Linked DNA regions of Homo sapiens: region 2 is linked to region 1. The links come from fine-mapping of genetic effects on gene expression. Tissue or cell type: whole blood. Region 1 holds a variant in brackets; the other region holds the start of a gene. All regions are shown on one strand. Distances are from middle to middle.

Region 1 (2,752 bases):
GCGGGGGGCAGTGCATGGAGGGGTGGCGGGGTGGCGGGGGGGCAGTGCATGGGGGGGTGGCGGGGGGCAGTGCATGGAGGGGTGGCGGGGTGGCGGGGGGGCAGTGCATGGAGGGGTGGCGGGGTGGCGGGGGGGGCAGTGCATGGGGGGGTGGCGGGGGGGGCAGTGCATGGGGGGGTGGCAGGGTGGCGGGGGGGGGCCGTGCATGGGGGTTGGGGTGGGAGGGGACTGAGCTCTGAGAAAGGACCCCAGTTCACTATGTCAAAAACGAAAAAAAGGCAAGGCGCAGTGGCTCACGCCTGTAATCCCGGCACTTTGGGAGGCCAAGGAGGGCAGATCACCTGAGGTCAGGAGTTTGAGACCAGCCTGACCAATATGGTGAAATCCTGTCTCTACTAAAAATGCAAAAAAAATTAGACGGGCATGGTGGCTACTGTTATCCCAGCTACATGGGAGGCTGAGGCAGGAGAATCGCTTGAACCCGGGAGGTGGAGATTGCAGTGAGCTGAGATTGCACCACTGCACTCCAGCCTGAGTGACAGAGTGAGACCCCGTCTTAAAAAACAAAACAAGGCCAGGCACGGTGGCTCATGCCTGTAATCCCAGCACTCTGGGAGGCTGAGGCAGGTGGATCACAAGGTCAGGAGATCGAGACCACCCTGGCTAACATGGTGAAACCCTGTCTCTACTAAAAATACAAAGAATTATCCGAGCATGGTGGTGGACGCCTGTGGTCCCAGCTACTCCGGAGGCTGAGGTGGGAGAATGGCGTGAACCCAGGAGGTGGAGCTTGCAGTGAGCCGAGATTGCGCCACTGCAGTCCGCAGTCCCGCCTGGGGCGACAGAGCGAGACTCCGTCTCAAAAAAAAAAAAAAAAAAAAAAAAAAAAAAGAAAAAAAAGAAAAAAGAAAAAAAGAAAAGAAAACGAAGAAAAACCACAAATAAATAAAAGTTGAGGTATGATGTATGCACAGCTGCATTCGCCCCTTTGAGGGCACAGTTGTGTGAGTTTAGACAAATGCAAATGTTCATGGAACCACTGCAAGTGCGACACAGCAGCTCTGGTGCCCACAAAGCTTCCTCGAGGTCCCTTGCGGTCAATCACTGCCCGCACCTCAGCCCTCAGAGCCACTGGGAAGCCCCCTGCCCTGTGGGCTCACCTGTCCTAGAACGTCGTATAAAAGGAGTCGCAGATCGCAGCCTTTTCCACCTGGCTTCTGTCCCTCTGCAGG[G/C]TGCACCTGGGATTCAGCCACCTTCGTTCCTTTTACTGCTGAGTGTCCATCACGTGCTGCTCATGCAGAAGTGCTCAAGTTCGCTGTAAACGTAGTTTTCATTTCTCCCGGGTGGAGACCTCCATAAGTAGGTAGGTTGGTGGAATGTTTCACTGCATGAGAGTCTGCCAGGAAGTTTTGCAGTGTGGTCCCGTCTTGTTCTTCCCGCAGAGGGTGATAGCTCTGCTGACTCCCAGCCCTCACAGGCTCTAGGGATTGAGCCTGTTTCTGTGGAACGCCTTCCATGGTCTGCGAGGTGCACAGAGGGGTCTCAAAAAGCTTCCAGGTTGCATCTTCCCATGGACTGATGCTGAGCGTGTTCTCATCTCCCATCCGGATGTTTTCTTTGGTGGAGTATCTTTTCAGATCTCTTGCCTTTTTATTTTTATTTGTTTATATATATATTTTGAGACGGAATTTTGCTCTTTCACTTAGGTTGGAGTGCAACGGCGCGATCTTGGCTCACTGCAACCTCCCCCCACCCACCTCACTTTGGGTTCAAGCGATTCTCCTGCCTCAGCCTCCCGAGTAGCTGGGACTACAGGCGCCCGCCACCATGCCCGGCTAATTTTTGTATTTTGAGAAGAGATAGGGTTTCACCATGTTGGCCAGGCTGGTCTCGAACTCCTGACCTCAGGTGATCCACCCGCCTCGGCCTCCCAAAATGCGAGGATCACAGGCGTGAGATGCCACACCTGGCCTCTTTTTATTTTTAATGGAGTGGCTTGTTTTCTTATTACTCAGTCTTGGGAGTTCCTCATGGATGCTGGATTTCAGTCTCGTCTCAGGTGTATGCGTTTTGTAGATGTTTTCTGTAGGGACCAGCCCCACAGGGTTGGTGAGTTTCTCCCTGTGTGCTGAGATGAGAGGGCATAGAAATAAGGACACAAGAAAAAGACATAAAAGAAAAGACAGCTGGGCCTGGGGACCACTACCACCAAGACGTGGAGACCGGTAGTGGCCCCGAATGTCTGGCTGTGCTGATATTTATTGGATACAAAGCAAAAGGGACAGGGTAAAGAGTGTGAGTCATCTCCAATGATAGGTAAGGTGACGTGAGTCACGTGTCCACCGGATGGGGGGCCCTTCCCTGTTTGGCAGCCAAGGCGGAGAGAGAGAGAGAGAGACAGCTTACATCATTATTTCTGCATATCAGAGACTTTTAGTACTTTCACTAATTGACTACTGCTATCTAGAAGGCAGAGCCAGGTGTACAGGATGGAACATGAAGGCGGACTACGAGCGTGACCACTGAAGCACAGCATCACAGGGAGACGGTTAGGCCTCTGGATAACTGCGGGCAGGTCTGACTGATGTCAGGCCCTCCACAGGAGGTGGAGGAGTAGAGTCCTCTCTAAGCTCCCCCGGGGAAAGGGAGACTCCCTTTCCCTGTCTGCTAAGTAGCAGGTGTTTTCCCTTGACACTGACGCTACTGCTAGATCACGGTCCGCTTGGCAACAGGTGTCTTCCCAGACGCTGGC
Region 2 (2,626 bases), 25 kb after region 1:
CCATCCTGAGCCTCACCCTGGGCTCTCTTGGGGGAAGGGGGTGGGGGAGGCCACCCTACGCACAGTGGGTGGGAGGACCCTCTGCCCAAGCCCACGGGGTTCATGGCTCCACTGTCTCTAAGGCAGCTGAGGGTGTGGAGGAGCCTCCATGGTGGGCTGGGCCCCCTCACACTCCTCTTGGTTTTCAGTGAGTGCTGCGTCCCCAGTAGGGATGGCGCCCACAGGGTCCTGTGACCTCGGCCAGTGTCCACCCACCTCGCTCAGCGGCTCCCGGGGCCCAGCACCAGCTCAGAATAAAGCGATTCCACAGCAAACCAAGGATGCTTTTGACTGGGGGCCAGCCGGGGAATTGCGGGGAGGATGGCGGGGGTCGTCACCAAGGGCCAAGCCACAGAACCATAGAGCCAGCTGCAAAGAAGACGCGTGCCCAACCCAGTCCCTTGCCAGAGCCCCTCTGGGTCTTCAGACACCCAAACTCAGGCCCGGGCTCAGAGGCGGGGGCTGGTCAGAGGACACAGCCTGGGAGGAAGCCAGCAGTGAGCTCCACCAGGACCGCAGCTGGGGTGCCAGAGGCTCCAAGGACTGCCCAGGACAAGAGAGAGGTGGCTGGTGGGGCTCAGAGCAGCCCCTGACTCCCCAGGCTCAGGCTTCTCTGGGCTGGGGTTGTGTCTCTTGCCTGGGCAGGGGCAGGGACCCCAGACACCTGAGCCTGCAGGTCCTCCTGTGTTCTGATGGGTGTGGGGGGCTGCGCTGCCTGCCGTCCTGGGAGAAGCACAGGCCATGGGGGTCTCGGGGCTGGATGGGGGGCTGGGGACTGTGTGAGGCTCATGCTGGAGTGAGGCGAGGTGCACACAGATGCCTTGACCTGCAAGGCTGGGCATGCACACGCATGCACATGTGAGCACACACCCACACATGCACACACACACATTCATGGGCACGGGCACACAGCCCCGGCCCGCCCTTCGGCACCTGCTCAGGTGCTTGGTGCCAGGCCCTCAAGAAGGTGGTGGGGGCTGTGTGTGTGGCTGCCGCGCAGAGCTCACCATGTCCACATCTGCCCCAGAAGGGCCACGACCAGCCCTTTGCCTGTCACCTGGGAGGTCTAGGATGAGGGCCAGGGCTTAATGAGTCTCAGGGGCACACACAGTGACCCCAGGCCGGGCACTGAGGGCAGGAGGGTCCTGGGGCCTCAGAGGGGCCTCTGTCTGCCAGGGCAGCCCAGGCCAGCAGTGACCACCAGGTGGGGCAGTGCCGGCTTCCCTGGAGTGTCTGGGGGTGGTCCCTGGGCGGGGAGAGGGTAGCAGAGCCCAAGGCCACACCTGTTGCCTCCCTCCGCTCCCTCCCCTCCCTCCTCTCCCGACACAGGCTGGCGGCTCCAGAGAGGTTTAAACACTGGCCTTGGCGGCTGAGGGAGGAGGGTGAAGATGAGGCAGGGGCTGCTGGTGCTGGCGCTGGTGCTGGTGCTGGTGCTAGTGCTGGCTGCAGGGTCCCAGGTGCAGGAGTGGTACCCCAGGGAGTCCCACGCCCTCAACTGGAACAAGGTGAGCCATGTGCCACTGGTCCCTGAGCCGGGCGCCGGCTCTGGAGCTGGAGCAGGCTCCTGCACAGTCTCCCGGCAGCCGCCCAGGAGCAGGGCTACCAGCAGTTCCAGGCACGGGCGCTGCCCACCTGGCCTCTCCCACTGCAGCCTCCAGCACAGGGGCCCCGCAAGTTGCAGGGCAAAGGCAGGGAGCCTCGAGGGGGTTCGGGGGCCCAGGGGGGTCAGGGAGGGCCAGGGTGGAGGGGCCCAGAGAGCTGTGGCCGAGGAGGTCGGGAGACGCCCAGAGTGCAGAGTGGGTGTGGAGCAAGCGGGGCATATTCTGTAGCGGGAGGGCCCGGGCACCTGCTGAGTGAGCCGTGGGAGCAGCACTCATTGGCACGGCGGTGCCCAGGGCGCTAGGGTTGGCAGCAGGCAGAGTTGGGGGCCGGGGGCCGGCAGGAAGGGAAGTGGCCGAGCAGTACCCAGCCCCCAGGAGGCCATGTGGGAAGGAGCCGGGGCCTCTGAGGTAGGGGGCCTCCCACCTGCTGGCGCCCACAGCCCAGCCCTTTGCTGCCTGGGGTCCCTGACCAGCCGGGCACCTGCTTCTCTGCAGCCCTGCTCCAGTGGCCAGGGCTTGAGTGGCCGGGACCGAGGCGGCACCTGGGCGGAGCTGGGACTCCGGCTCACAGAAGGGTCATTTGTCTCCTGGGTTCTCTAGCTGGGAACCTCGGGGGTGGGGACAGCCCCCGGTGGCAGCTCCTGTCCCCGCCCACACATCCGCTGCGCAGTTTTCAGGGTTCTGGTACATTCTGGCCACTGCCACTGATGCCCAGGGATTCTTGCCGGCCAGGGACAAGAGGAAGCTGGGGGCGTCCGTGGTAAAGGTGAACAAAGTGGGCCAGCTCCGCGTGCTCCTCGCCTTCAGACGGTGAGTGGGCAGCGCCCCCCAGGCAAGGGTCTCCCCTTCCAGGAGGAGGGAGCTGCCTCGGGGCTGGAAAGGAGTCTGGGAGGAGCCTGTCTGTCTGGAAGTTCCACAAGAACCGTCCCCCCACTTCCTCCCCCTAAACTCAGAGGAAGCCACCTGCAGCCCCTGGGACCCCACAT

The links. PIP is the estimated chance that this variant, and not a neighbour inherited with it, causes the effect.
Region 2: LCN10 starts here. The variant in region 1 is fine-mapped to the expression of LCN10 in whole blood (TOPMed, PIP 0.91).

Annotation. Positions count from the first base shown.
Region 1 is chr9:136,766,629-136,769,380 of GRCh38, reverse strand. It overlaps LOC107987143 (a long non-coding RNA gene), which reads left to right. Exons shown (of 3, transcript XR_001746981.2): 2 at 1,232-1,620; 3 at 1,707-2,752. Among named protein-coding and RNA genes, the nearest start is that of LCN15, 3.5 kb to the right of the region's middle. The variant G/C (reference allele first, on the strand shown) is at 1,233.
Region 2 is chr9:136,741,705-136,744,330 of GRCh38, reverse strand. It overlaps LCN10 (lipocalin 10), which reads left to right and starts at 1,391. Exons shown (of 6, transcript NM_001001712.3): 1 at 1,391-1,544; 2 at 2,311-2,450. The coding sequence starts at 1,428. LCN6 (lipocalin 6) reads left to right here. Exons shown (of 7, transcript NM_198946.3): 7 at 189-314. RefSeq lists a silencer at 1,887-1,986.